Linked DNA regions of Homo sapiens: region 1 is linked to region 2. Evidence: fine-mapped expression QTL. A gene starts in region 2. The other region holds a variant in brackets. All regions are shown on one strand. Distances are between the middles of the regions.

Region 1 (15,382 bases), 70 kb before region 2:
GCTCTGAGGGATTCGGGGGCACGCTGAAGGCCGTGTGTCCCTCTCTGGGAGCCCTGCTCTCGCTACAGGACCTCCGAGGGAGTCGGCGGGAGTTGTACCCAGGGGGACTAGAAGCCCCTAAGCGTTCTGGGGATTCTGCCCTCGAGACCTTTTAGGGGTCTGGGATCCTTTTGAGGGGTCGTGGTCCCACAGAGGGGACTGGGGACCCCAGCACATTTGGAACCTGGTTAAGGCGGTGTGGGGTCCTGTTGGGGGTCCACTCTGGGGACGGGGGTCCTGCAGGAGCGTGGGGGCCGCGCCGACAGGATCCATCGGGGGTCCCTGCTATATCGGGGTGTGTGGAACGGGCAGGGGAGGCCGTGGGAGGTGGACTCAGGAGGTCTGGTTGGCCTCAGGGCGGGCAAGGTTCTCAGAGTGGGAGACAGGAAAGTTGGAACCTTCAGGTCTCACGCGGCTCTGGGTCCAACCTATTGAGTGTGTTCTTAAAACTTAGCCCAGCCCCTGGGGGTCAGGCTGGTGCAGGGAGATGGGGGACTCCCACAACCCTGACGGGACCGGCCTGGGCAGAGAGAGGGACGTGGAACTGGAGGGTCTCTGCCTGGGACCATCCCCGAGGAGGGGCGCTGGAGATGGCCCTGAAGGAAGGGCACTGATGGCCGGAATTATTGAAAGTGGGGCGTCGTCCCAGGCGGAGGTGCAGGACGCCGTAGGAGATGAAGGCACAGGCTCCCGGGAATGAGGAGGGAGGCTGCATTGATTTTATCAGGGTTCTTGAGTTCGAGAATCGTAAATCCAGTGAAGGGAAAAGAAGGAGCTGATGGAAGACTCCAGAAAATTCTTGCAGATGTCTGCAGAGCCCTGACCCTGAGACAGGAGGCTGGGTGGAGGGCAGGGCCATCAGAACATCCCTGGACAGACCTCTGGGAGCCTTAGGTGGAGAGATGCACCCCTCCACCACCTTTTCCCTTGGGGGGTTTTGGGGGGTGGTGGGGTCATTGATGAAGAGCCCAAAGGTCCAGGAAGACCTCTGAGACTCCAGTGGTTGGGTGCAGGGAGGGCTGAGGAGAGAGCTGAGCTGTGGGGAGGTGGAGGGATGGTCTCTAGCTATGCCTGCAGGGTGCAGAACCAAGTTGGGGGCTGACTGTGAGACTGGGAAGGGCCTGAACCACCTGGAAGGGTATGGGATGATGGGTGAGTGCTAGGGTCTCCCAGGAGAGCCTGGAGGAGGCTACTGGTTGAGCTCAGCAGAGAGGTCTGGGCTGGAGGTGTCACCGTGCTGAGGTTTTGATGGGCTGGCTGATTGGGTGGTTAAAACCCTGGCAGGTCACAGGAGAGAGGTCGGAGAGAGAGGAGAAAAACAGACTGGGGGGTGGGAGGGCAGGGTCCTAGGGGAAGGGTGGGGCTTCAACAGCCCTGACCCACTGGCTTGCAGGGGCCCATGGGCTGGCACTCATGGTCCCTAAGTGCCAGCCAGCCAGTCTGCACTAGGGTCCCGGGGAGGGCGAGCAATGAGGACTTAGAGATGAGAAAGATGCCGCCACCAACCTCATTACTGAAAAAAGATTTCTGGTCTCAGTTTACAAGTCACAGGTACAGAGAAAATGTCCTATTAGTCTGTTATTTTATGTATTTTTATTTTATTATTATTATTATTTTGTTTTGAGACAGAGTCCCACTCTGTTGCCCAGGCTGGAGTGCAGTGGCACAATCTCGGCTCACTGCAACCTCTGCCTCCCAGGTTCAAGCAATTCTGCTGCCTCAGCCTCCCAAGTAGCTGGGATTACAGGCGCCCACCACCATGTCTGGCTAATTTTTGTATTTTTAGTAGAGACAAGGTTTCATCATGTTGGCCAGGCTCGTCTCAAACTCCTGACCTCAAGTGATCAGCCCGCCTCAGCCTCCCAACATGCTGGGATTACAGGCACGAGCCACCGCACCTGGCCTCAGCAGTCATTTTGAATTACCGTGCTAGGCCCGGTACCCATCACATTAGGGTTTTTCCGACTAAATTTAGCTTATTTATGCCTGATTAAAGGATTATTTTCATAATTAATTTTACTATTAAATAAACTTTATTTCATTTTGATGATAATTCCAGAACACTAGTAGACAGCTCTCCTGAGCACATAATTTTACATAATTATGTAATTACTGGCAGCAAATGGGTATTTACTGCATTCAAGCAGGAAAACCCAGCTTCACCACAGACTGATTCTTCTAAAACGTTTAAAAATAAGTATATGAAAATGTGTTCTGAATTAAGAACTGGGTGAGAAAATTCCTAATTAAAAAAAAAAAAAGCCTTAGCTGGGTGTGTTGGCACATGACTGTAGTCCTAACTACTCGGTAGGTTGAGGTGGGAGGATCACTTGAGCCCAGGAGTTTGAGACCAGCCTGGACAACATAGCAAGACCCCATCTCTAAAAATAAAAATAAAAATAGGCCGGACACAGTGGCTCACGCCTGTAATCCCAACCGTTTGGGAGGCCAAGGCAGGAGGATTGCTTGAGCCTAGGAGTTCAAGACCAGCCTGGCAACATGGAGAAACCCTGTCTCTACAAAATAGACAAAAATTAGTTGGGTATGGTGGCGAGTGCCTGTAATCCCAGCTACTAGGGAGGCTGATGTGGGAGAATCACTTGAGCCTGGGAGGTTGAGGCTGCAGTGAGCACCCCAGCATGCCACTGCACTCCAGCCTGGGTGACAGAGCAAGACCCTGTTCTCCCCACCACTCCCTTGCCAAAAAAATAAATAAATAAATAAAAATAAATAAGCTCACCCCACTCAGACATGTAGGTCTTCACACCAAAACAGGAGGTGGCCAGGAGCATAGACGCCCTTTCAAGGAGGTTAATTACAAAGGGAAGAAGAGGGAGGAGGGTGATGGAACCATCAGGGATCACTTAAGGTGGGAGACACTTAGGGGAAGGAGCTACCAGGTGAAGGAGAAAGCTAGAAGCTCAACCGAGACGCAGTGGCTCCCTAGGTGACAGTGTGGGGTGCAGAAGGCGGTGGGAGCCGCTTTCACTGAGTGTGGCGGGCTCGTGGTTAGGGGCTGGAAGGTGGTGGTGAGGAATACAGGAGACTACATAGGAAGCACCCATTTCCAGATGAGAAAACTGAGACTCCGGGAAATTAATATTATACCTGAATCCATAGCGGAGGCGGGAGGCAAATCCCATGGTCTCCACTGCCCTACACTCCCGCTAGGTGGTGAGGGTGGGTGTTGATCTCTGACGTGGGAGGGCAGGGCCATGCTAGGTGAGTCCAGACTCACCCCAGGACTCTCCCCTAAGAAGCCGCTAGAGCCTAAGAGGCTCGCCCTTCCCCCATCCAGCCTGACTTCTCTATAAA[T/C]AGCCTGGGTTCCTAGGGAGGGAGGGAACTTGTGACCCTCTGGCAGGTGCTGCCAGTCATGTCCCCTCCCCCCAGGCGGTCCTCGGAGTACAGCTGGTGGTGACCCTGCTCACTGCCACCCTCATGCACAGGCTGGCGCCACACTGCTCCTTCGCGCGCTGGCTGCTCTGTAACGGCAGGTGAGCCCCGCCCCGGCGGTGGGAGGGGCCCGCGGAGTCACGCCCCCTTCTGGCTCCCCACGCCCCGCCTCACAAATTGCAAAGCCTTGATTTTGGTTGGTGGGTGGTGGGGGGAAAAACGTTGTTGAGGTGTAATTGAAGTACAACAAACTGCATATATTTGTTTTTTCTTTTTCTTTTTAGAGACAGGGTCTCACTCTGTTACCCAGTCTGGAGTGCAGTGACCTGATCATAGCTCACTGCAACCTCAACCTCCTGGGCTCAAGTGACCCTCCTGCCTCAATCTCCTGAGTAGCTGGGACTACAGGTGTGCGCCACCATGCCCAGACAATTTTTAAATTTTTAATAGAGATGGGGTCTTGCTAAGTTGCCCAGGCTGGTCTCAAACTCCTAGGCTCAAGCGATCCTACCACTTTGGCCTCCCAAAGTGCTGGGATTACAGGCGTGAGTTCCCATGCCTGACACAAACTGTATATATTTGAAGTACACAGTTGGACTAGTTTTGACAGGTGTACACATGTGTGGAACCATCACCACACTCCCCACGTCCCTCACTCTTCCTGCCTCCCTGTAACCCAGCCTTCCTTCCACCCCTGCATCTGCTAGAGCTCGCCTGCTCTGGTTTTTGTCCTTGCGTGGGTCTGTGATGCTTTCTGAGAATCTGGTGGCAACTGAATTCTCTCCTGAGAAAAATGTATGTGACAAAAACAAAGGCAAAAAAAAAAAACACGTCAGAGATGATAGCTCAGGCCCATAATCCCAACACTGGGGGAAGCCAAGGTGGGAGGATCACTTGACCAGCCTGGGCAACATGGCAAGACCCTGTCTCTACAAAATATTTTAAAAATTAGCCAGGTATGGTGGCTCACGCCTGTGATCCCAGCTAATCAGGAGTCTGAGGCAGGAGGATCGTTTGAGCCCAGAAAGTCAAATCTGCAGTGAGCTGAGATGGTGCCACTGTACTCCAGCCTGGGCGACAGACCAAGGCCTTCTCTCAAAAACAAAAAACAAAGGCCGGGCGAGGTGGCTCACACCTGTAATCCCAGCCCTTTGGGAGGCCGGGGCGGGTGGATCACTTGAGGTCAGGAGTTTGAGACCAGCCTGGCCAACATAGTGAAACCCTGTCTCTGGTAAAAATACAAAAATTAGCTGGGCATGGTGGCGCATGCCTGTAGTCCCAGCTCCTCGGGAGGCTGAGGCAGGAGAATCACTTGAACCGGGGAAGTGGAGGTTGCAGTGAGCCAAGATCATGCCACTGCACTCCAGTCTGGGTGACAGAGGGAGACTCTGTCTCAAAAAGAAAATGAAAAAGAAAAGAAAAGTTGCACACACTGGCTTCCCCAGGAGAGTTAGCCAGCAGATTCAGGGGTATCCAAGCCCCCGGAGCCCACTCAGCCTAGATCTGTTGGTCTCACGATTTCCCCAGAATTTCCCCATGCTGTACCCTCACCTACCTCCCAGTGTTCCCCTGGCCTAGGCTACCCTCTAACTAGAATCCCTGGATTTGGGGTTCACTGCCTCAACCTCCCAACCCCACGCCTGAGCTTCCCTGACTGCCCGTCCTTGCTCTCAGTTTGTTCCGATACAAGCACCCGTCTGAGGAGGAGCTTCGGGCCCTGGCGGGGAAGCCGAGGCCCAGAGGCAGGAAAGAGCGGTGAGTGACCTGGGCCCCAGCCCCAGCCTTGGGAGGGTGGCTCCTCCCCAGGAACGGCCTCACCCCTGCTCAGGGGGCTCTGGGCTCAGGGACACAGGACCGGCCCACCCATACTTCCAGGCGCTGATCTGGGCACAGGTGAACCGGGAGACCCTAGTCCAAGGAGATGGTCACTGTCAAGTTAGCATCTGTTTCCTGGCAGTTTGCTCTAGCCAGTCCTGTGGGTGGGTGGGGGGATCCCCATATCCCAGTGTGCAGAGGAGCCAAGGTTGTGGAAAGAGATGGTCTCCAGGCCAGCTGCTCTGAGCTCTGAGGGTGGCTGGCCTCAGTGGAATGCGTGCTCACCGTCCCTCTTGCTTGTCACCATCCTCCCAGGTGGGCCAATGGCCTTAGTGAGGAGAAGCCACTGTCTGTGCCCCGAGATGCCCCGTTCCAGCTGGAGACCTGCCCCCTCACGACCGTGGATGCCCTGGGTAATAGCCCAGTCCCATCCCTAAACTCTACTCCCTCAGCCCTGAAGGTCTCCACACCCTCATGGGGGTGGGGAGGATTTGAAGGAAGAATGTTCTATTAGGAGGGGAGCGAGCTGGGCCCCAGGGCTGAGCAGAGTGCCCCCCACAGTCCTGCGCTTCTTCCTGGAGTACCAGTGGTTTGTGGACTTTGCTGTGTACTCGGGCGGCGTGTACCTCTTCACAGAGGCCTACTACTACATGCTGGGACCAGCCAAGGAGACTAACATTGCTGTGTTCTGGTGCCTGCTCACGGTGACCTTCTCCATGTATCCTTCCTCTCTGCTCCCTGCCAGTGGGGCGGGTGGGAGCAGGACCTGAGCTTCCCTGGCTCCCCTAAACTGGTGTGGCAGTTTTCACCTGCTGTGCCACAAACTTCCCCAAGCTTAGTGACATGAAGCAGACATTTTATGTGCTCCAGCTCTGTGGGTGGACAGACTGGGCTGGGCTCAGCAGGTCGGTTCATCTCCACTCCACATGGTCATGCCCTTTGGTGGCAGTAGAAATGCCAGGAGGCAGGAGGGAATGCCTTGCCCAAAGTCACCCACCCCATCCCTATTCTTTCTACCACATTCTCCTTGTTTAAGGAAATCACCAGGCCAGTCCACAATCAGGGCCAAGAAAGATATGGTCCCTTGGCAAAATTTTAAAAAATATATACTCCAGGCATGGTGGCTCATGCTTGTAATCCCAGCACTTTGGGAAGCTGAGGCAGGCGGATCACCTGAGGTCTGGAGTTCAAGACCAGCCTGGCCAACATGGTGAAACCCCGTCTCTACTAAAAATACAAAAATTAGCCAGGCGCGGTGGCTCATGCCTGTAATCCCAGCACTTTGGGAGGCCGAGGCAGGTGGATCATCTGAGGTCAGGAGTTCAAGACCAGCCTGACCAACATTGAGAAACCCCTTCTCTACTAAAAGTACAAAAATTAGCCGGGGGTGGTGGTGCATACCTGTAATCCCAGCTACTCAGGAGCCTGAGGCAGGAGAATTGCTTGAACCCGGGAGGTGGAGGTTGCAGTGAGCCAAGATCATGCTATTGCACTCCAGCCTGGGTGACAAGAGCGAAACTACATCCCCCCAAAAAATTGTGTGTGTGTGTGTGTGTGTGTGTATATATATATATATGTGTGTGTGTGTATGTATGTACATGTATATATATTTGTTGTTGTTGTTGAGACAGGATCTTGCTTTGTTGCCTAGGCTGGTCCTGATTGGCTTCAAGTGATTCTCCTGCCTTGGCCTCCCAAAGAGAGCAAATACATGACTTTGGGGACCCAAGTCTGAGGAAGCACAGAAAGAATGCTACTCCTGTGACTTTTGGAGTGGGAAACCTGTCTTAAAATCCACTGGTTCCCCAGATTCCCATGCTTTTTTGTTTTTTGTTTTGTTTTGTTTTTTGAGATGGAGTTTTACTCTTGTTGCCCAGGCTGGAGTGCAGTGGCATGATTTAGGCTCACTACAACCTCTGTCTCCCGGGTTCAAGTGATTCTCCTGCCTCAGCCTCCCAAGTAGCTGGGATTACAGGCATGCGCCACCATGCCTGACTAATTTTTGTATTTTTAGTAGAGACTGGGTTTCACCATGTTGGTCAGGGCTGGTCTCAAACTCCTGACCTCAGGTGATCTACCTGTCTCAGCCTCCCAAAGTGCTGGGATTACAGGCATGAGCCACTGCGCCTGGCCTGTTGTTGTTGTTTGAGACAAGATATCCCTCTGTCGTGCAGGCTGGAGTGCAGTGGTGCAATCAGGGCTCACTGCAGCTTCAAACTCCTGGGCTCAAGCGATCCTCCCACCTCAGGCTCCCCAGTAGCTGGGACCACAGGGGCTACCACAAAATTATTTTTTGTAGAGATGGGGGTCTCACTATGTTACCCAGGCTGCTCTTGAACTCCTGGGCTCAAGTGATCCTCCTGCCTTGGCCTCCCAAAGTGCTGGGATTACAGGCATGAGCCACTGTGTCTGGCCCCCATGCTGCATTTTGACAGCAGATTGGAGATGAAGCCCTTCTATATCTGATTGCTTTTCCAAGGGATGTGAAGTAGGTGAGGTGGGTGAAAGAGGCAGGGTCACCCAGGGCGGGAGGCTGTACAGACACGGTGGCCTGATGAGGCCATCTCCCACTCAACGGGAACCCCCAGCCCACATCCTGATCTGAGATCCAGCACCCCAAAACCGAACTCCTCTAGGTCATCCCCAAGGCCTATTTGTGCAGCAGTGCTTGTTCCCTGGAGTTCTGGGGTCCCAGACGGAGTGTGGTGAAATGGGCAGAGTGGGGCAGTGGCACCTGAGGCCTCCTTAGCTCCAGCCTCCAGCAAGATGTTCCTGACAGTGACACGGCTGTACTTCAGCGCCGAGGAGGGGGGTGAGCGCTCTGTCTGCCTCACCTTTGCCTTCCTCTTCCTGCTGCTGGCCATGCTGGTGCAAGTGGTGCGGGAGGAGACCCTCGAGCTGGGCCTGGAGCCTGGTAAGTGCAGCCCCCAACGTGGGGCCACCGCAGCTGTCACTCCCTCATGTAATCTGACCAAGATGGTTTAACTGGCTCCGTGTCCAGCACGAGTAGGCAAAGGAGTGGGCTCCTGGGGTGAAGGCAGTCCCCATTAGTGACCATCTCAGCTCCTGAACCTTGTTGGGCTTTGGGGAAGACAGGACATTGCCTCTCTCACTGTCTCTGATGGACACTCATGGCTATAGCTCTTTTTTTTTCTTTTTTTTTTGAGATGGAGTTTCACTTTTGTCACCCAGGCAGGAGTTCAGTGGCATGATCTTGGCTCACTGCAACCTCTGCCTCCTGCATTCAAGTGATTCTCCTGCCTCAGCCTCCCAAGCTGGGATTATGGGTGTGCACCACCACGCCTGGCTAATTTTTGTATTTTTAGTAAAGATGGGGTTTCACCATGTTGGCCAGGCTGGTCTCAAACTCCTGACCTCAGGTGATCCACCCACCTCAGCCTCCCCAAGTGCTGGGATTACAGGTATGAGCCACTGTGTGTGGCCTCTTTTTTCATTTTTTTAAAAAATTATTTATTTATTTATTTTTATTGAAACAGGGTCTCACTATGTTGCCCAGGCTGGTCTCACACTCCTGAGCTCAAGCAGTCTGCCCGCCTCAGCCTCCCAAATTGTTGTTATTACAGGTGTGAGCCACCGTGCCTGGCCTCTTAAATGATCCTTTTAACATATAATTTGGACCTCATCACTTCTCTGCCCGGCACCACACTCCCCCGGTCTTAGGAGAAAGACCATAGCCCTCACCATGGCCCACATGACCCTGCTGACTGCTTGAGTTTTACCTTCTCCAATTCTCCCTGCCTTTCAGTTTTTAAAATTATATATGTTTGATATATACAAAGAAGATGTGTATGTCAATTATAAAGCAAAATAATCATATGAGTACCTGCAAACCTACCCCTCAAATAATAAGTAGGTGGGGTAGTGACTGCACCAATCTCCCAAGGGGGCGGCAGTAAGGTTTAAATGAATCAAGATCCATGGATAGGGCTTGATTTTTGCCAACCTAGCCCTCGTCACATGGAATGATGCCCTCTGTGGCCTTAACATGCATGTCTCTGATTACCAGGGAAGTTGAGCACCTTTTCCTGTTTATTCATGATTCATGTCTCTTCTGTGAAATTTTTGTGAAATACCTGTTCACATTGTTGCCCATCTTTGAATCTTTTTTCTCTTTGAATTTTTTTTCATTGTGGTAAAATAGACAAAACATAAAATTCACCATCTTAACCATTTTTAAATGTGCAGCTCAGTGGCATTAAGTATATTTAGATGGCCGAGCATGGTGGCTCATGCCTGTAATCCCAGCACTTTGGGAGGCTCAGGCAAGCAGATCACCTGAGGTCGGGAGTTCAAGACCAGCCTGATCAACATGGAGAAACCCTGTCTCTACTAAAAATACAAAATTAGTCGGGCGTGGTGACACATGCCTGTAATCCCAGCTACTTGGATGGCTGAGGCAGGAGAATTGCTTGAACCCAGGAAGCGGAGGTTGTGGTGAGCCAAGATCGAGCCATTGTGCTCCAGCCTGAGCAACAAGAGTGAAACTCCGTCTCAAAAAAAAAAAAAAAAAAAAAATGTAGGCCAGGTGTGGTGGCTCACATGTGTAATCCCAGCACTTTGGGAGGCCAAGGCAGGCGGATCACAAGGTCAGGAGATCAAGACCATCCTGGCTAACATGGTGAAACCCTGTCTCTACTAAAAATACAAAAAATTAGCTAGGCTAATGGCACACGCCTATAGTCCCAGCTACTTGGGAGGCTGAGGCAGGAGAATGGCGTGAACCTGGTAGGCGGAGCTTGCAGTGAGCTGAGATCGCGCCACTGCACTCCAGCCTGGGCGACAGAGCAAGAGTCCATCTCAAAAAAAAAAAAAAAAAAAAAGTCTATTTAGATGTCGTGCAACCATCACCACCGTCCATCTCCACAACTCTTTGCTCTTGCAAAACTGAAACTCCAGCCCATCAAACACTAACTCCCTGTTCCTCCTTCTTGCAGCCCCTGACACCCACCATTTTACGTCCTGTCTCTGTGAATGTGACCACTCTGGGTTCCTCATATAAGTGGCATCATACAGTATTTGTCCTTTTGTGACGTGCTCATTTCAGTTAGCACAATGTCCTCAAGGCATATCCATGTTGTAGCAGGTGTTAGAATTTTTTTTTCTTTTTTTGAGACAGGATCTCACTCTGTCACCGAGGCTGGAGTGCAGTGGTGCAATCACAACTCACTGCAGCCTTGATCTCCAGGGCTCAAGTGATCCTCCCACCTCAGCCTTCCAAGTAGCTGGGACCACAGGCACATGCCACCACACCTGGCTAATTTTTAATTTTTTTTTTTTTTTCTGTAGAGATGGGGTCTTGCTATGCTTCTCAGGCTGGTCTCAAACTCCTGGCCTCGAGCAGTCCTCTCACCTCCGCCTCCCAACGTGCTGGGATGACAGGCGTGAGCCACTGGGCCCAGCCAGAATTCCATTTTTAAGACTGAACACTGCCAGGCACGGTGGCTCACGCCTGTAATCCCAGCATTTTGGGAGGCCAAGGCGGGCGGATCACGAGGTCAGGAGATCGAGACCATCCTGGCTAACATGGTGAAACTCCGTCTCTACTAAAAAAAATACAAAAAATTAGCCGGGTGTGGTGGCGGGTACCTGTAGTCCCAGCTACTCGGGAGGCTGAGGGAGGAGAATGGTGTGAACCCAGGAGGCGGCGCTTGCAGTGAGCTTAGATAGTGCCACTGCACTCCGGCCTGGGTGAAAGAGCAAGACTCCATCTCAAAAAAAAAAAAAAAAAAAAAGACTGAACACTATTTCATTGTCTGGGTGGAACACATTTTGTTTATTCATCCACAGATGAATGCTTGGGTTGTTCCCAACTTTTGGCTTTTTGACTAATACCGCTGTGAACCTGAGTGTACAGGTATCTCTTTGAGACCCCATTTTCAGTTTTGGAGAGTATATATCCAGAAGTGGAACTGCTGGATTATATGATAATTCTACTTTTAATTTTTTGAGGGACTGCCATACTGTTTTATACAGCAGCTGAACCATTTTATTTTATTTTTGAGACAGAGTCTCATTCTGTTGCCCTGGCTGGAGTGCAGTGGTGGCGTGATCTCCACTCACTGCAACCTTTGCCTCCCGGATTCAAGTGATTCTCATGCCTCAGGCTCCCAAGTAGCTGGGACTACAGGCTCCCACCACCACACCCAGCTAATTTATTTTTTTATTTTTATTTTTATTTTTTGAGACAGTCTCCCTCTGTCACCCAGGCTAGAGTACAGTGGCATGATCTTGGCTCACTGCAACCTCCACCTTCCAGGCTCAAGTGATTCTCTTGCCTCAGCCTCCCAAGTAGCTGGGATTACAGGTGTGCGCCACCACACCTGGCTAATTTTTGCATTTTTAGTAGAGATGGGGTTTTGCCATGTTGGCCAGGCTGGTCTTTAACTCCTGACCTCAGGTGATCCTGCCCATCTTGGCCTCCCAAAGTGCTGAGATTACAGGTGTGAGCCACCACATCTGGCTACACCCAGATAATTTTTGTGTTTTTAATAGAGACAGATTTTGCCATGTTGCCCAGGCTAGTCTTGAACTCTTGAACTCAAGCAATCGCCAGCCTCGGCCTTCCAAAGTGCTGGGATTACAGGTGTGCACCACTGTGCTCAGCCCATTTTATATTTTATATTCCCAGCAGCAGTGCACAAGTGTTCCAAATTTATCCACTTCATTGCCAATACTTCTTTTGTTTTCATTTGACCACTATTTGCATTATTTTCCGTCTGCATACATGCATCACACTTTCTTTGCTGAGTCGTCAAATGTAGTTGTAAGTGTCACCTCTAGTGTCTTGATGAATGGAAGTTGATTATTTTAGTTGATATTTGTCTTGAAAAATATCCTTCCCTAAAATCAGAAAGTCATTCTACATTGTCTTTTTTTTTTTTTTTGAGACAGAGTCTCGCTCTTTCCCCCAGGCTGGAGTGCAGTGGGCGATCTCTAGTATTTTTTACTAGAGATGGGGTTTCACTATGCTGACCAGGCTGGTCTTGAACTCCAGACCTCAGGCAATCCACCCGCCTCAGCCTCCCAAAGTGCTGGGATTACAGGCGCGAGCCACCGTGCCCGGCCTACTTTTTGTATTTTTTACTAGAGATGGGGTTTCACCACGTTGACCAGGCTGGTCTTGAACTCCAGACCTCAGGCAATCCACCTGCCTCAGCCTCCCAAAGTGCTGGGATTACAGGCGCTTGCCACCACGCCTGGCTGAAATATTTTAGAAGAAAATATAGAATGACTGGCCAGGGGTGGTGGCTCATGCCTGTAATCCCAGCACTTTGGGAGGCCGAGATGGGCACATCACGAGGTCGGCAGATCGAGACCATCCTGGCTAACACCGTGAAACCCCGTCTCTACTAAAAATACAAAAAATTAGCCAGGCGTGGTGGCAGGCGCCTGTAGTCCCAGCTACTGGGGAGGCTGAGGCAGGAGAATGGCGTGAACCCGGGAGGTGGAGCTTGCAGTGAGCCAAGATCGCGCCACTGCACTCCAGCCTGGGCAACAGAGCGAGACTCCGTCTAAAAAAAAAAAAAAAAAAAAAGCTGGGCAAGGTGGCATGCACCTGTAATCCCAGCTACTCGGGAGGCTGAGGCAGGAGAATCACTTGAACCCCGGAGGCAGAGGTTGCAGTGAGCCGAAATCACGCCATTGCACTCTAGCCTGGGCGACAAGAGCAAGACTCCATCTTAAAAATCAATAAATAAAATATTTCAACTTTTACATTTCATATAAGCTCCTAAACTACTCACTGTTGCTGATGGACAGTGACATTAATTTTTGTGTTATCATATAGGGGTCAAATTTGAGTGTCTCCACGGACTAACCTTGCTAAACAATTATATTTTTATTGAATTGCAGATTCTTTTTGGTTTTCTTTTGTTCTGTCTGATCCTTCCCCTTTGGTGTGGCTAGGACCTCTGGATTTGAGAACAGTACTGGCGTACCTCCTTTTCTTGTTTCCAATTTCTCAGTTAGCTACTTGGCTCATAAATTTTCAATCTTTTCTAATTTTATAGCATATATAGCATTTAATGCTATATATATTTTACCAGGTCTCACTTTTGTTCACCTAAGTTTTTTTTTGTTTTTGTTTTTGTTTTGAGATGGAGTTTTGCTCTTGTCACCCAGGCTGGAGTGCAACTGTGCAATCTCAGCTCACTACAACCTCTGCCTCCTGGGTTCAAGCAATTCTTCTGCCTCAGCCTCCTGAGTAGCTGGGATTACAGGTGCACGCCACCACGCCTGGCTAATTTTTGTATTTTTAGTAGAGACGGGGTTTTACCATGTTGGCCAGGCTGGTCTCAAACTCCTAACCTCAGGTGATCCACCCACCTCGGCCTCTCAAAGTGCTGGGATTACAGGTGTGAGCCATCACACCTGGCAGTTTACCCAAGTTTTGACTGATATTTTTTATTATTCTGTTTGGGGTGTTTTAACATTTCCCTTCTGATTTCTGTAGAGATGGGGTCTTGCTATGCTTTGACCTATGGATTATTAAATATTTTTAAATTTTTCAAACATAGATCTTTAAAAAATACATATTTATTTCTAGCTCAATTGCACAGATGGTCTATTTGAAATAATTTCTTTAAAATTTGGTAAGATTTGCCCTATGGCCTGGAATGTGATCACATTTTGTGACTATTCCTTGTTTTCTTGAAGGACATATTCTGTTTTTGTTGTTTTGCCTTTTTTCACATGTTCTAATTGAAGGACATATTCCCTGGCTCTATGAGTTTAATAAATTCAAATCTCCATCTTGCCTAACCTTTTGTCTGTGACTTATCAGTCAGCAGAAGTTAATCTCCCTCTGGGACAAGAGAGCTCTCAATTTCCCTATCAATTCTGTCAGTGTTTTCTTTATATATTTTGCAGCCTATTCACAATTCACAGATTAGTTCTATTCACAGATTTAGAACTGTTACATTTTCCTGGTGAATCAGCCATTTTATCATGATGTATGGAACCCTTCTGTCTTCTAATACTACTTTTTTTTTTTTTGAGACAGAGTTTTGCTCTCGTTGGCCAGGCTGGAGTGCAGTGGCGCAATCTCGGCTCACTGCAACCTCCACCTCCTGGGTTCAAGCGATTCTCCTGCCTCAGCCTCCCAAGTAGCTGGTATTACCCGCCACCATGCCCAGCTATTTTTTGGATTTTTAGTAGAGCCAGGGTTTCACCATGTTGGCCAGGCTCGTCTCGAACTCCTGACTTTGTGATCTGCCCGTCTTGGCCTCCCAAAGTGCTGAGATTACAGGTGTGAGCCACCGCGCCTGGCCTATTCTAATACTACTTCTTAGTCTAGTTTGGCTGGTAGTAGTATAGCCTTTCTAGCTTGCTTTCTTTTGATTAGTATTTGCTGTATCTTTTTAACATCCCTTTACTTTCAGTCTTCCAGTGACTTTATGTCAAGGTATGTCATCCTTTAAAAAACATGTAGCTGGATATTTTCAATGTAGTCTGACAGTCTTTGTCATTTAACTTTAAAGTTTAGTCTACTTACATTTATTGTGATTACTGACATATTTGACTTTGTTTCTACCATCTTACTTTTTTGCTTTCTATTTGTTCCTTTTCTGTTGTTGCAGTTGACATTGGCTGTCAGCCTAATTGTTGTTCCTTTGTAGGTGATCTGTCTTAACTCCCTGGCTGCTTTGTAATTTTTTTGTTTTTGGTGTTCTGCAGTTTCACTCCATTATGTCTAGGTATGGATTTCTTTTTATTTACATGGTTTGATATACTTTGTGTCTGTCTTTCATTCTGCAAACTTCTCAACCATTCTCTTCCAGTAATTCCTTTTATTCTTCATTCCTTCTCTTCCCTCCCTCTGGGGCTCTGATTTGATTTGCGTTGGGCTCTCTGTTCTGTCTTCCTTATCTCTTAGCCTCTCTTCATATTTCTCACCTACTTGTTTTTCTGAGTTGGAATCTGAGTGATTTCTTCAGATCTGTCTTCCAGTTCATCACTTCCTCCTTTGGCTGTTCCTAATGTGCTGTTTAACAACCTATTATTTCAATACTTACAGTTTTCCTTTGGAAGAGTTTAATTTGGTTCCTTTGCAACTCTACCCAGTCATCTGAAGGAATTCTCATGTCACTTGTTCTGTGATTACAGCTTTCATTTC
Region 2 (16,304 bases):
CTTTTTTTTTTTTTTTAAAGAGACAGAACCTCACTGTCACCCAGGCTGGAGTGCAGTGGCACAAACCATGGCTCACTGCAGCCTCAACCCCCTGAGCTCAAGTGATCCTCCCACCTCAGCCTCCTGAGTAGCTAGGACTATGGGTACATGCCAACAAGGCCAGCTAATTTATTTATTTATTTATTTATTTATTTATTTATTTATTTGAGACTGAGTGTCGCTCTGTCACCCAGGCTGGAGTGCAGTGGTGCCATCTCAGCTCACTGCAACCTCCGCCTCCAGGGTTCAAACGATTCTCCTGCCTCAGTCTCCCGAGTAGCTGGGACTATGGGCATGCACCACCACACCCGGCTATTTTTGTTTTTATTTTTTTCTTGAGACAGAGTCTTGCCCTGTTGCCCAGGCTGGAGTGCAGTGGCACGATCTTGGCTCGCTGCAACCTCCGCCTCCCGGGTTTAAGCAATTCTCCCTGCCTCAGCCTCCAGAGTAGCTGGGAATACAGGCGCCCACCAACATGCCCGGCTAATTTTTGTATTTTTAGTAGAGACGGGGTTTCACCATGTTGGCTAGGCTGGTCTTGAACTCCTGACATCAAGTGATCCACCTGCCTCGGCCTCCCAAAGTGCTAGGATGAAAGGCGTGAGCCACCATGCCTGGCCCGACATGATATACTTTTTTTTTTTTTTTTTGAGACAGAGTCTCGCTCTGTCGCCCAGGCTGGAGTGCGATGGTGTGATCTCAGCTCACTGCAACCTCCAACTCCCGGGTTCAAGCAATTCTCCTGCCTCAGCTTCCTGAGTAGCTAGGATTACAGGCGCATGCCACTACGCCTGGCTAATTTTTGTATTCTTTGGTAGAGACAGGGTTTCACCATGTTGGTCATGCTGGTCTTGAACTCCTGACCTCATGATCTGCCCGCCTCGGCCTCCCAAAGTGCTGGGATTACAGGTGTGAGCCACTGTGCCCGGCCAATATACTTTTTATGAAGAAGTATTTCATGTTTAAAATAAAAAATGCAAATGCACTTTTAAAAGCTCTGTCTTGCAAAACCCAAACGAGCGAATGATTCTGATTATCTCAATAATCCCCTCTTAATGTCTAACTGCCAAAATAGAAGAGACAGACAAAAAAAACTGTATGACACGTGGGCAGAGGCCTGACTTCAGTATGACGACACCCTCCATCTGGCACCAGTGGTGAGAAATTGGACAATTGGAGAGAGTCTCGAAACAGCTTCCCAGACAGATTTAACATCTGACTCGTCTCAATCTCTCATGATGCCCTCATCTTTCTTTTCCTAGACCCAAGTGAAAAAAAAAAAAATCAGCAACAGCTAAATGGTTCTTCTAGCAACTGTTCTTGTTGAGGTACCTTGAGCCAAAATCTCAGCACCACCACTGCTCCCTGCTATAGGGACAAGCTTCACAGAGCAGGAACTCAAAAAAAATTTTTTTTAACAGAAAAACAGGGTCTTGCTCTGTTGCCCAGGCTGGAGTGCAATGGTGCAATCATAGCTCACTGCAGCATTGAACTCCTGGGCTCAAGCAGTTCTCCACCTTAGCCTCCCAACTAGCTGAGACTATTTACGCACGCCACCACGCCCGGCTAATTTTAAAATTTTTTTTATAGAGATAGGGTTTCACCATGTTGCCCGAGCTGGTCTGAAACTCCTGGGCTCAAGCAATACACCTGCCTCATCCACCCAAAGTGTTGGGTGGTGTGAACCACTGCATCCAGCCCCAAATATTTCTTGAACTTTAGTCTGACTGGCAGAGAAACAAGTCTAATGTTTAATCCCTACCCCACAAGCCAGAACACCTAAGACAGGGGTAGGAAGCATGGAAGTGATGTTCAAAAGGATCTCTTGTGCTGTTTTTTACCTATCAGATGGGACAGACCACAAAACTTGATAGTAAGATAACTGAGCTGGCCACAGGAGAGGAATCAGGCTTTCCAACTTCACAGTTGAGAGGAGGAGGAGGAATATGCCCTTTTACTTGGCCCTTTTTTTTTTTTTTTTTTGAGACAGGGTCTAGCTCTGTCGTCCAGGCTGGAGAGGAGTGCAGTGGCATGATTATAGCTCACTGCAGCCTTGAACTCCTTGGTTCAAGCAATCCTCCCACCTCAGCCTCCTGAGTAACTGTGGACTACAGGCATGGCCAGCAAGACAGGGGGGTCTGAAGTGTCTGAGCACGGCTGGAGCCCAAATACGTTCAATGTGTATTTAGTACATGCTGATGCATGCATCTATCCATTGCAGCTCTGTTTGTAAAAGCTAAATATGGGCTGCAGTGGCTGGGCGCAGTGGCTCACGCCTGTAATCCCAGCACTTTGGGAGACCGAGGCAGGCTGATCACAAGGTCAGGAGATCGAGACCATCCTGGCTAACACAGTGAAACCCCGTCTCTACTAAAAAAATATGAAAAAATTAGCCGGGTGTAGTGGTGGGTGCCTGTAGTCCCAGCTACTCAGGAGGCTGAGGCAGGAGAATGGCTTGAACTTGGGAGGCGGAGCTTGCAGTGAGCCGAGATCGCGCCACTGCACTCCAGCCTGGGCGACAGAGCAAGAATCCAACTCAAAAAAAAAAAAAGAAAGAAAAAAAAAATATGGGCTGCAGCTTAAACAGCCATCAGTAAGGGACTGGCCTTAGAATGCATATGTCTGCTCAATGCAAATTTACCAGTGGTTTAAAAGGGGTGGGGGATATATACCTCCCCCGACCCCTTTCTGCCACCCCAGTCATAGACTACCTCTGGAAGAAAACATAAGAAATTATCAACAGCAGGTGCATCTGAGGAGGAACGGGGTACAGGCTGGGGAAGACCTGACTGATTTCTACTATGTGACCTTTTGTACTGTTTGATTTTTTCTTTTTAACTATATAATAGGCCGGGTGTGGTGGCTCACGCCTGTAATCCCAGCATCTTGGGAGGCTGAGGCGAGCAGATCACTTGGGGTCAGGAGTGCGAGACCAGCCTAGCCAACATGGTGAAACCCCGTTTCTATTAAAAATACAAAAATTAGCTGGGTGTGGTGGCACATGCCTGTAATCCCAGCTACTCAGGAGGCTGAGGTAGGAGAACTGCATGAACCCAGGAGGCAGAGGTTGCCGTGAGCCGAGATCACACCACTGCACTCCAGCCTGGGCAACAGAGCAAGACTCCGTCTCAAAAAAAACCCAAAAACTATATACTCAATGATCTTGCCAAAGTTTATACACATGTACATATATAACACACACGAAATATGTATATATAAAATATGTATATAAACATATGAATATTATAGGTACATGTACATATGTGTACAACACACACACATATACATACATATATACATACATGCCCATATATGTTTTAAATGACTCCTATTGAAGTTGGACAGAAAACCCAAATGGCTTCAGTTTCCACAGGAGAAGCTGAAGGTGACATGACCCTCTGAAACATTCTGGTACCGTCTTTGCAGGGAGCGGTGGGAGGGGGTAAGAAACGCTCCAGGAGCCTTACAGGAAATGGCACGTTATTGCTTTTCAACAACAAAGCCACTGTCCTCCTTCTATGCTGCATGCTTGCAAATCAGACTCAAGGGAACTAAAAAATTCCAGAAGAATCATTCCTAGCACCACCCAGGCTCGTTTTGCAGGTTAGCTTTAAACAGCTGAAACATTAGTTTGCCTCACTCTAAAGAGTGTTTCCTTACTCTTTATCGGCTTCAAGGGCCCAGGGAGTGTCGGAGAGGGGTCCCGGGTCTGCAAGAGCTGGGAGCCCCGGCCCCGGCAACCCCCTCTCCGGCATCCTGCAGGAGGCACCCAAGATGATGAGCCCCCCTCCTCCGGCAGCGTCTCCACCGCCAGCCTGCCCCAGGACTCCGAGACACACGCTTGGCAGAGGGGCCGTCCCTTCCAGCTAAGCCTTTCCGGACCCAGTCAAAGTCACGACTCCTGCCAATCCCTCTGAGATAAACATAACAGATGGGCCCAAACGCGGTGGGTCCACAGCAGAGGGTCAGCGATGCCCAGGGTAGAATAGGCTCTGCCTCTAGCATTCAAGTGGTTTAGGTCTGTGGCTGGTAAAATGGAGATGATTCCGGTTTGGTCTGACAGATGGGATTATTCTAAGGTCCGGAAATCACTTTATAGACTGTCAAGCACTGTTAGAAATGAACACTGGGGTAAGCTTTTGTTTGGGGAGGGGAGGGTGCAGCGATCCTGAGATACCAAGGCTTGGGGGACTATTGGAGGACCTGGGGGATTCGGGGGGATTATTACAGAGGGTGTGCGAACACAGGTGCACGTGGAAGAAAGCCCAAGGTGGGAGAGAGAAAAGGGGGAGACAGAGGTGTGGGGCTGCCAGGGCAGAGGGCAGGTGCCAGGGGGAAGGTCCCTGAGAAGAGAGACACAGGTTGCTGGGGGAGTGGGCACGAGAGTAGCGAGCAGATACCTGGATATGAGGAAAGGCAGTGGGGGACGGGACTAGGTCCAGGTGTGAGTTGCGAGGCCATGAGTTAGGAGTCACAGGCTCAGGTGTGGGTGTGGGGGTGTCATCGACAAGGACAGACTCAGGTGATGTGGGGGGTGTTCGTGAGTGGGGGCGGGTGTTCGTGAGTGGGGGCGCGGTGTCAGGTGTGTGAGGGGGATGTCAGACCCAGCTGTGCGGGGCGCCGGGGACAAGGCCCCAGGGGTGTGGGAGATGTCAGCAAGGACAGTCTAAAGTGTATGGGGGATGTCAACGAAAAGGGACGTGGTGTCAGGCGTGCGTGGACTGCGGGTGACGGGCTCAAACCTGGATGCAGTAGCCCCCAGGGGGCAGTAGACGTGGAGTGTGGGGTTGGGGGGGGTCTTTAACCTCTTCCTGCCCTCGCGACGCTACTGTCATGCCCCGCCTCATCCGCCCCTCGCCCCGGGATCCATGACAGGACCCGTGCCTCACCTCAGTTCAGCCCGACAGGCGCGGGCCGCTGACGCTTGGGCCCCCCCGGCGCCCCCCGCGCCCCCTCACCGGCCCGGACGCGTCGCCGCCGCCGCTACCTCCAGCCGCCACGGCCCCGCCTCGCGCACCCCCAGAGCGCGCCACGGGAGGGGTCCACGCCACGCCCCGATTGGCTGCTCCCTGGCCAGTCAGCGCTGGAAGCGACAGTGATTGGCGAGTATGAAGCAGATGGGCAGCCCCTAAAGCCAATCGCTGATTGGCAGAGGTGGGGCTATTGGGAGAGGCCTGGGGTGCCTGAGTGGTCCCTCAGGGTGCTAGGCGCTGGGAGGCGAGGGCCTGGAGGCAGGCGAGGATTGGAATCTTGGCAGAAAACAGGCAGAACTGTCGGCCAATCGCTGGGGGCCAGGGGCGGGGCTACGAAGAAACTGGCGCTACCGGTGGGGCAGAGGCGAGAGGAACGGAGGGCGTAGCTTGGGGGGAGACCGGGATTGGCCGCAAAGCCGAAGACTGGCAGGCCCCGCGGCCAGTCGCAGCGGCCGTGGGCGGTACGCCCCCAGGGGAGGGCTGGAGCGTTCAAGGTGCAGTCCGACCCGGAGCGCGGCAACCCGACGTGGCCTCGGACGCCTGGCGCAGGGTCCCCTGAGGCTCTCGTGTAGAGCCCGCCCTCTGGCCACCTAGCACAGAAGCGGATGTGAACTTGGACCATCAAGGCTGAAGGACTCCTGGATAATTCTCTATCCCCTTACTCCCCACTAATCCCCTGCAGACGACACGGAGAGGGCAGATTCGCTGGAGGTCACTCTGAACTGCCCTCTCCATCTCGAGGTGGTGTGAAGACATGGAAATAAGGGGCGGAATCCTACTGAAACGCGCTGCGTGGTTTTCTGAGTGTCTGACCTCTCTGCGTCCCAGCTTTCCCCGCCACGGTATCCAGTGACATCCCTGTTGGGCCTTCTCCCTGCCAAGTCTTTTTTTGAATTAACTGAATCTTAACCACAATCCCATGAGGTCAGAGAGACCACTGGCTCCTTTTACAGAAACCAGAGCACAGAGAGGTCAAGCTCCTTGCCCAAGGTTACACAGCATTCTCTGGTTGCTAAACCAGAGAATGAATCTAGAGCAGCCTGCTTTTTGGAAAGAGTGTGTCAGAGAAGAGCCACTGGGGGCCTCAGAGACCTGGGTTTGAATCCTTGTCCAATCACTGGCCCACCACACAACCTTGGGCAAAAGCCCTTGTGAGCCTCAGCTGTTTCATTTGGAAAAGAGGGGGGAAAATGATTCCTATGCCTTGATCTTTCCTCTCTGGGGTTGCTTCCCTGGGAAAATTTACAACTCAGCTCTCATTTTAATTATCTGGTGAAAGCATTTGACCCTGAGCAGGTCATGTGCGGCCTGTGAGCCTCAGCTCCTCTGTGAAGTGCAGAAAAATGCCGGCAGTTTAGGGAGACACCTGCCATCCCAGGCATGGCTGTGTCATCGGCACCTCCCCCGAAGCCACTCTGTTCTATGACTCACCCTTCATCTTCAGGATGGAGAGGGCTACAAATGTTTCCAGATACCAGCTCTTATTTCCTCTAGGTGCTGGCCAGGGTTGGTGGAGATCAAGTTCAGAACCAGGGAATCCTGGGAGGGAGCAAGGCTGAAACCAACCTTAGAAAGGGCTCACATTTCAGGGCTGCACAAGCCCCTGCTAAGTGTGTGATCCACAAGTTTCAAATGGGGAGGATGTGACGGGAAATCACTAGCCCAAGGCCATCATCAAACTCCTGATATTCTCACGATATGCCTACCTGGACCTCCTCTCCCATACCTCCCACCTGTGGTTTGCTTCCTGGCAACTTCCAGGATCTGGCCTCCATTCTGCCCTCCAGAGAAGAGGGGGAAGCTGAGGTCAGTTGAACATCAATTGGGTGCCAGGTCCCCACTGGGCTTTCTCCAATACCATCTCCCCACCTCACTTCCAGGTGGACGTGACAGTGCCCACTTAGCAGATAAGAAAACTGAGCCTATGGTGGAGAATATTCCTTGGTGGAAGGACCCAGGGCTGAGTTTGAATCCCTGCTCTTTTTAACGTAAGTAATGGCCAGTAACAGCCACAGGACCTTCAGCAAATAACACAAGCTCCCCACTTCAGTTTCCCGGCTGTCTCCTAGGGCTGATGTGAGCATTGATGAAATGGAAGCAAAACACTTACAATGGCTTCGTCCACAGTAAGCACTCATGGAAGGCTGGTGATGATATATTGTTCTTCTCTGGGCCTGTTTCCCTCTCTGTAAATAGCGCTTCATGGACACAGACCAACTATGGGCGTGGCTTGCCACACCAAGAGGGAGATATCTACGCCGAGGAGCGCCCACTCCCAGTGCCCACCTGCCAGGCCCTGGGAGGGGGAGGTAACAAAGCTCCTGGAAGGTCCCACAGTGCCTCCAGGGACAGAGCCAACTAAGGCAAAGGTCAGGCTCTGGCCCAGCCTGGGGCTGCCTCTCTAGCTTCTGCTCGTTCTTTAGCAGGCTGGCGCCAGCCAACCTCCCTACCGCCTTCCAGCAATGGCAGGCAAAGCACCTTGGCAATAGCAATGGACACCCCCACCATGGGCACTCATGTAAGCCCAGCTAGGGTGCCCAGGATCTCGGCTCTTCTGCTTTGGCTGGCCAGCCCTGGACAGGACACTGCCTCTTCGCCCTCCAGTCTCCTCTACCTCTTGGGGATCCCAGGAATCATCTGTGAGCCAGGCCCTGGCACAGCGTCCAGGCCTAATCACCTGAGGCCCAAAGGCCTTTTGCCCAAGGTCAGGTTAACAGCTTTGGAAAAAGATGAGGGGCCTGGAGGCAGGCCAAGCTGTGGTCTCATCCCACCGCAGCCCCTCAAATGCCCATGAGTCTATTTCCTATCTGGAAAATGAGGTTTAGTCCAGCCTCTGGGAGATGTATGTTCACAACAGAAAAAATCTGTGTTCCTTTCCCAGGAGCCCAAGCCCATCCCTGGCTGGAGGGAGACATCCTGAACACAGCAGTGACAACAACCAAGCCTGGCTGGGGTCAGAGTGGCCTCATTCACCTCCCAAGGCTCAGATAAGTCAGGCCACTTCACCAAGAGCCTACAGTAGCAGAGGCGTGGCCTGAACACACTCGCACCATCCTTGCAGCAGGCTCCACCTCAGCCCAGGTCTCGATGTCATCAAGGAGGACAGCAAAAGCTACTTAAGAGAAGGCCAGGGCCGGGTGCGGTGGCTCACGCCTGTAATCCTAGCACTTTGGGAGGCCGAGGCGGGCGGATCACGAGGTCAGGAGATCAAGACCATCCTGGCTAACAAGGTGAAACCCCATCTCTACTAAAAATACAAAAAAATTAGCCGGGGGTGGTGGCAGGCGCCTGTAATCCCAGCTACTCAGGAGGCTGAGGCAGGAGAATGGTGTGAACCTGGGAGGCAGAGCTTGCAGTGAGCCGAGATGGCGCCACTGCACTCCAGCCTGGGTGACAGAAAAGGGAAGGCGACGGGGATGGGGGCTGGGGGGAGTTATGTTCTGGACATCCCCTGAAGCGCGCCTTTCTAGGGGCTGTGGCCCTCCAGTGTGCCAGATCTAGCCTGAGTTCAGATGAGAAGGCCGAGGCTCACAGACGGGAGGTGATATGCCTGAAGTGGCCGAGGGGGGATGGAAAGCCAGGCCATAACCCCAGGGAAATGTGAGATCTTTGGTGAGGGGCCCCCACCCAACCTGAGGCTGTCCAAACATGCTAGCTGCATCTACTGAAGACACCCACTTCCTTGGGCTAAGGTGGGAGGGACAGATAAGGCAGAACCACCCCTTCCTGAAGAAGCCTGCAGCTTGGCCCAGGCCCAGGGGAGGACGCTGGGGCCACCTGGCAGGGACCTCGAGTGCTTGTCAGTTTATTCAGGTGAACACTCAAAAACACTGACGGGAAGCTGAAGGCACAGCAAGTGGGGACAGGGGCCTCCCTGCAGGGAGCCAGCCGATGGTGGGGGCAAGACAAACAGGAGAGTTCACAAATGAGGTGACCTCAGATGGGGCCCAGTGTCAGAGCCAGAGCACATGAGGTGATGAGATGGGGGTCTCTCCTGGAGAAGGCAACGTGAGCTGAAACCTCATGTGCTAGGAGGAGCCGGCCACGGGGAAGGCCAAGGGAAGGGCACTTCTAGGCAGAGGGCATGGCTTGTCACATGGGGGCTTGTGCAAAGGCCCTGGGGTGGGGGAATAGGGAGTGAGTACAGTGGAAAGACTGGGAAATGGGCAAGGCCTGGGCCATACTGGGTCTGCAGGGCATGAAGTGCATTTTTTTGTTTGTTTGTTTGTTTTTGAGACAAGCTCTTGATCCGTCACCCAGGCTGGAGTGCAGTGGTGCCATCCTAACTCACTGCAGCCTTGACTCCTGGGCTCAAGTGATCTTCCCGCCTTAGCCCAAGTTGCTGGGACCACAGACAGGTTTGGTTTTATGTAGAAGGCAAAGGGGAGCCATGGGCAGACTGAGAGCAAGGCTGGAGCAGGAATGACAGGGCCAGCACTGCAGGCCGTCCTCGAAATAGCTCAGGAGCACCTACCCCGCCACATGACAGATGAAGAAATGCTTGAGAACTGCCCAAGGTCACACTGGCCCAGAAGTTAAGTCAGGGCAGTCTGGGGCAGATTCGAGATCTTTCTCCCACATCCTGGGAGTCTCCAGGGAGGAGGGATAGGGCGGGGTGACTGGGTCAGAGGTTTGGGCCAGCCCTGCTGAGCTGAGAGCACCCTTTCCTGCTGGGGGCAGGGGAGACGGGGACACCACGGAGAGGTGCAGCCAGGGTGACGCTCCTCAGCTGTTTGCATCGGCTGGATTCCACGGAAGCTGGGGGCCTGCTGGGAAAGGAGTGTCCCTGAGGTCAAGGACTGAGCCCAGGCCATCCTGGGGCTCGGGGAGGCACATGACAAGCAGGGGCGAGGGTCCAAGAGGGGAGAGGCCTCCAAGGTGTGGGCAGGAAGGCTAGGGCACACACCAGTGGTCATGAGGCTGCCCGGACCCCCGTGAGGCCACAAGAGATGCACAAGCCACCTAGTGACCACGGTGTGACCTCTGAGTGTGACTTCAGAGCAGAAGAGCTGGGGTCTGCAGGGCCACAGCTGTCTGGGCACCCCCAGAATGCTTGGGGTGGGGTGGTCACTGAGGGCAACAACAATGATGTCTTTTTTTTTTTTTTTTGAGACAGAGTCTTGCTCTGTTGCCCAGGCTGGAGTGCAGTGGCGTGATCTCAGCTCCCTGCAACCTCTGCTGCCCGGGTTCAAGCACTTCTCCTGTCTCAGCCTCCCAGGTAACTGGTATTACAGGCATACGTCACCACACTGGGCTGATTTTTGTATTTTTTTAGTAGAGACGGGGTTTCACCATATTGGCAAGGCTGGTCTCGAACTCCTGACCTCAAGTGACCCACCCACCTCAGCCTCCCAAAGTGCTGGGATTACAGGCATGAGCCACCGTGCCCGCCGATGTCTATCTTATAGATGGGGAAATCGAGGCTCAGAGACAAGAGGTTGGGTACCTAGGACACCCAGCCTAAGACAACTGGACACCCTCCATGTGCTCAGCCTGGTCCAACACCTCTCAGAGGGCGATCTATCACTGCCCCACTCCTCACTTTAGGAGGAGCATATTGAGGCTCGGAGAGGTTCTTTCACTTGCTCAAGGCCGCAGAGCTGAGTAGGGGATGAACGTGGAGCCCTCCGGCCCTGCAGGTGGTACACGTCAGAAACAGTGATCCTGACCATGGCCTCAGCGCCTGCCTGTCTGAGGGTGACAGCAGATCCTAGATCCCTGGCTGTTCCCAAAACCCCTTTGCTATCCTCAGTGACTCCATGGCCCCCCCCACCAAAATGTCTGTCTCTCCCCCACACTCTGAGGCCACTGACTGTGGCCCCCCATGCTCAGCCAAGCTATGGAAGAGACCCCTCCGCTGTTCACCCAATGATCTTTTATTATCAGGTATCCTGGCTGGCCCAGGACCCAGAGACAGACAAGCTGGGGCCAAGCAGGGCGGAGCATCTGAGACCCATTTTACAGGTAAGAAAGACAAGGAGCAGAGGCCTGCATGAAACTGCAGTAAGCAGCAGGCGCCAGGGGGCCCAACCCCACTGGAATCGCCTGCCCTGCCCTGAGCCTGGCCCACAGTGGCTGCCACATTTCAGACAGGGCAGTGAGTGATGGGACGTGCCCTTTGCCCCCTCTGGTAGGGCGTGGGGCTGGGGGAAGGAGCAGGACAGTAACATCCGTGCTGCTGGCTGGGACCCAGAAGTGGCTGGGACATGGGGGCTGCTTTCTTCTGTGTAGAGGCCTCCCTACAAGGCTCCCCCCTCCCCCGACCCTTTACCTAGGGCCTGCCAGAAAACACTTCTCATTGTGAAGGGGACAGAACTAATGGGGGACAGTGGAGGACATGGATCTACCCCCATTCCTGAGTCACACGACTCACCCAGAGTCACGGCCCAGACTGGGCCTGGGGTCATGGCGCCAGGTTGCCCCTCTGGCCTGTCCACAGCTCTCGGAGCTCGACATGACAACCCAGGTCCCGCAGGGCGGCCTTGGCCACGTCCTCACAGTCACGGTGGGCAGATCGGGCCTGCATGATGAGTGCCTCAGCCCCCAGGTCCAGGATGGGCTTCGAGAAGGCCTGGCCGTGGGCCACCAGGTTTCGGATCAGCATGCAAGCCTGTTTCTGTAGGAGAGAGCAGCTGTGAGCTGCCAGATGGGGCTTTGGGGTGGGGTCCACTCTGACCTCAGGGTCTTCATCATAACAAGATGGAGGTGATCATAACCACAGCTGACATCCAGCAGCTGCCTATACTGTATCAAGCTAGACCCATCTCTCTACTTTACCCTCTTGGCAGCCCCACAAGGCATGGCTAACTCCCAGGCAAGGAAACAGGCTCAGGGAAGCTCCAGGATCTATCCTATGGCTTTGGAACTCTCAGCCTCAGAGTTGGTGAGCCTGAGGTCCCCCGAGGCTGGCACAGAGCCAAGGAAGGGGCCCTAGGGCAAGGGGGCAGTGAGGCCACGGGAAGACAGTGGTTGTGCACAGGCACCTGTCAATTACATCCCTACCCATTCAGTGGACATTTGTGCCCTGTGCACCTGCTGTGGGTGGGCGCGGGGCACTGCCTGGAAGCTTCCCAGGGTGGCTCCCACCACCAGCAGGACAGCAGGTGGGAAGCGCATGCAGAGTGGGGAACTGCTGGCCAGGGTGGCCAGAAGTGGACAAGGGGTCAGACCAGGTAAGGGTCAGTGTCCCAGAGTAAGAGCCAGCGAGAGCAAAGGCCCCCTGTGGGTCCCAGCCTGGTGTGTCCAAGAATCCTATGCTGGGAGTGAGGAGGCGAGGAGGGCCCCGGGGGCTGCACGGAGGAGTCTGGGTTCAGCCAGGGAGGTGTGGACAGGGTGTCCCACACTCAGAACTCAGACCAGCAGCCCAAGGAGGGGGCAGAAACCTTTCTGAAACCCCAGGCAGATCCCCATCCACGCTTCCCCAACTTCTTTCTCCCCAGATCTCTCTATAGGGACTTTTAAAAAAGGAGATTAAGGGTGCGGTGGCTCACACCTGTAATCCCAGCACTTTGGGAGGTGGAGGTGGGTGGATCACCTGAAGTCAGGAGTTCGAGACCAGCCTGGCTAACATGGCAAAACCTTGTCTCTACTAAAAATACAAAAATTAGCTGGGCGTGGTGGCCCATGCCTGTGATCCCAGCTACTCGGGAGACTGAGACAGGAGAATCGCTTGAACCCAGGAGGCAGAGGTTGCAGTGAGCTGAGATGGCGCCACTGCACTCCAGCCTGGGCGACAGAGTGAGACTGTCTCAAAAAAAAAAAAAAAAAACCCACAGAAGGAGATTACGTGTTATAGCTTTCTTTCCAGGGTTTCACCAGAAAGCCCCTCCAAACTACCCCCTCCCCAAAAAAGGAGAGTAAATGCAGAAAAAACAAAGGCAGAGAAGGAGGCAAATGAAGGCAGAATTCAGCACATTTTGCAAGATGAGAAAGAAGTTGGCCCTATGGGGCTCGGCTGTGGGAGGGACAGGGACAGGGATAGGGATAGGGACTGAGCCTTTGCCCCATCACCCACCCGCACACCGCACCTGCTCCCATGCCCTCTCTGCACCTACCTGCACATCCCACACCAGCCTGCCTGCCCCCATCCCCTGCCCTGCCCACCTGCACGCCGGCCTTCTGCGGGTGTGCCTTCATGGCCTGCAGTGCTGCCACAGCCCCGCCACCCTCCACGATGATGCGGCTGTTGTCGGGCTTACGCAGGGCCAGGAAGCACAGGGCCGCGCAGCTCTGCTCACACACCTGCAGGGGCCAGTCACAGAAAGGCTGAGATGCAGCAGATAGACCCCCCACAACATCCTGCCATGGCCACCAACCCCTGGTGAACACCCTGCGGCCTCCCCTCCGTGGGTCTCTGGCAACTCCTGTGTAATAATGGCAGGGTGACAAAAATATCAGCTCAGCTCTTAGGGGTGACAAGGGCAATAGGCCTGGTCAGATCTTTGCAGGGTGCTGGTGGTAACTCCAGGACACCCAAAGTCATGCATACGCAGGTCAGCATTTGAGAGCCAATGCCCACGACCCTCACCAGCCCTGCCCTGGCCCTGCAGGGGAATAGAGCTTCATGCAGATACAGAAACTGAACTGGGACTCCAGCCACCACCCTGCTACTGTGTGTGCCCCCCGAGGTGGGTACCTGGGGGCTGGTCAGATGCTGGGTCATAGCAGCCACGATGGACTCCGTCCCACCAGCACGGACAATAGCATCTTTCACGTCGTCGTTGCCTGCGATGGCTCGCAGGGTGCTCAGCACTTGCTTCACGAGCTCCTGCACAAGGGAAAGGCCCGCTCACCTCCAGCCAGGCCGCTGGTTGTGGGAGAGGGCTCTGAGGGAGAATGTGGGGCTGTTTTGCTGTTTGACCAACAGGTATGGTGTGACTGCAGGGTGTGACTAACGAGAAGGGGTGGCAGATGCCTGTGGCTCAGGCTGCCTGTGTCCAAACGGTACCATCCAGGTGACTTGATCCCCTACCCCGACAGGGGCAGCGGGGGCATGTGACTCAGGCCGGCCTTCAGAGCACAGGGTCCCCCTGTCCACGGCCACAGACCCAGGGTAGGCGCTAACTGCCCTGCACTGAGGACAGTGGATGAGGTGCTACTGGGACTGCTGATCCCCCGATGGAGAACCTGAGGACCCTGCCCCCAACTGCCCAGGAGTACAGGGCAAAATGTATCCCTTCATTTGCTGAAGTTGGTTCCCATTCAGCTCCTGGCCACTTGCACAGAAAGAGGCTGGCTGACGTCAACAGCTGGGCTTGGGGGCGCAGGACCGTGGCACCCCTGGGGGCTTTCCTGCAGCTGCAGCTGGATAGGGAGGCACCTGTTGATTGGCTCCCTGCTGTGGATGGGCACATGGAGAAGGGCTCAATAATCGGCTGCTAAACGGAGTAATGAGTAGGGACACTGCTCTATTCTGTAGCTAGGGAAACTGAGGCAGAGGTGCGGGAACTAACCCAAGTATCCCAGCCTTGGCCGACACACCCCAACCCTATGCTTCCTACCATCCTTTTCCTGGTGCAAAAGGACAATAAGGGAGAGCAGGTGGGTTTGTTTCCCCCCCGACCTTTGGTTCCTGCCCTTGGGTCCGTGAAAAGAAAAACTGCACTTTGGTTCCGACACTGGCAGGCAGGGCTGGCTTGTTCTGACTATAGCTCGTCCGGTTGACTGGGACCCAGAAGGACAGCACGCAATGGGCCAGGGGGACTTCATACCTGAACGCCGCTCTGGTCCCTCATCTGGTGGTCATTGCAGTCGGCTAGCAGGGACACCAGAATGCTCAGGCCCCCGAGGTCGACGACCTCCTGGCAGAACTCGTTGCGAATGGCCAGGCGGGACAGGGTTCCACAGAGCTCGCTCAGGATGCCAGGGTTATCCAGGAACGCTGCAGGGAGAAAGGGAGACGGTGGTGGGGGCGGGAAGAACCAGCCGCAGGGCCCTCTGTTTTGGTGGAGATCCTGCTCCACTGGAAGAGTCCAGCCCTTCTGCCTATTGGAGTGGCCACGGGCACCAGGAAGGCCCCAGGGAACACCAGGGGCTACCTGGGCCTGCAGTGCCCCCTGCTGGCTGCTGGGAAGACTTAAGAATGTGCCCCCCAACCCGCTTCCTTCCATCATGCCCCAAATAAATTCCATACCAACTCATGGTCTCACCTAAAAAAAGAAAACTATAATAGTGCAAAAAAAAAAAAAGACATCTGAAGACTATTTTTATGATCATGGGGTAGGAATGGCTTCTCTAAGTGCAACAGGAAACTCCAGAACCATAGAGGGACACATACGGACTGGGCTGACGTGGCCAAAACTGAACACAGGAGCCGCAGATGGAGCCCAGAGGCGCTGCACCAGGAAGCAGGTGCCGGCACTCACGCCAAGAGGGCGAAGATCCTGCACCTACACAGGGCTGCGACGGTCAGTTCCTGTGACCACCTGTAGCCCTCTGCAGTTCCACCCAATGCCAATCTAGGTGTTGCCGTGGAGGTATTCTGTCCACATGGTTACCATCCACAATCAGCTATCTATTATTATTATTATTATTATTAATTTTTTTGAGACAGAGTCTCGCTTTGTCACCAAGGCTGGAGTGCAGTGGCGTGATCTTGGCTCACCACAATTTCTCCTTCCTAGGCTCAAGAGATCCTTGTGCCTCAGCCTCTCAAGTAACTGGGATTACAGGTGCCCACCACCACGCCCAGCAATTTTTGTATTTTTAGTAGAAACAGGGTTTCATCATGTTGCCCAGGCTGGTCTTGAACTCCTGGGCCCAAACAATCCTTCTACCTCAGCCTCCCAAAGTGCTGACATTACAGGCATGAGCCACCATGCCCAGCCCAGTTGCCTTTAAGTAGAGGAGATGACCTTGAACAATGTGAATGGGACTCATTCCATCAGCTGAAGTCCTTAGAAGGAAACTGAGGTGTTTCCCCGAAAAGGGGACTGCCTGGGGGTTTCCAGCCTGCCCTATGGAGTACAGACTTGCCATAATTGCATGATCCCATTCCTTACCAAAAAGTCTCTTCATATATACATATCCTGTCTCTGGCAGAAACCTAACTGATTGGAGCTCCTATAAATAAAACAGGAAAGATGTGAGCTACCTCCTGGAAAAGCAGCCTGACTTTGCAGAAGGTCGGGACTCATTTTCAGCCTTGCTGGAGGTGTGGAAGGGAGACTGAGGTGGGCCCATCTCCTCAGCAGACAGAGCCAGAACCCCCACACAGGCCTGGCCACAGAACCAGAGTGACGGGGCAGGCAAGAAAGGGGAACTCATCCTCCTAACACCTTCTGTGTGTCAATC

What was found. PIP is the estimated chance that this variant, and not a neighbour inherited with it, causes the effect.
Region 1: its variant is fine-mapped to the expression of SLC25A42 in skeletal muscle (GTEx, PIP above 0.99). The same link has a PIP of 0.9 or more in atrial appendage and left ventricle.

Annotation. Positions count from the first base shown.
Region 1 is chr19:19,122,935-19,138,316 of GRCh38, reverse strand. It overlaps TMEM161A (transmembrane protein 161A), which reads left to right. Exons shown (of 12, transcript NM_017814.3): 2 at 3,430-3,533; 3 at 5,107-5,187; 4 at 5,563-5,660; 5 at 5,809-5,965; 6 at 8,010-8,161. Among named protein-coding and RNA genes, the nearest start is that of TMEM161A, 7.9 kb to the left of the region's middle. RefSeq lists enhancers at 1-111, 1-457. The variant T/C (reference allele first, on the strand shown) is at 3,355.
Region 2 is chr19:19,052,740-19,069,043 of GRCh38, reverse strand. SLC25A42 (solute carrier family 25 member 42) reads right to left here and starts at 5,050. Exons shown (of 8, transcript NM_178526.5): 1 at 4,929-5,050. It overlaps LOC124904655 (a long non-coding RNA gene), which reads left to right and starts at 5,519. Exons shown (of 3, transcript XR_007067160.1): 1 at 5,519-5,854; 2 at 6,893-7,000; 3 at 7,894-8,218. ARMC6 (armadillo repeat containing 6) reads right to left here. Exons shown (of 9, transcript NM_001199196.2): 6 at 14,723-14,892; 7 at 13,648-13,779; 8 at 13,116-13,253; 9 at 10,868-11,628. The coding sequence ends at 11,416. RefSeq lists silencers at 4,879-5,148, 5,409-5,578 and an enhancer at 14,965-15,024.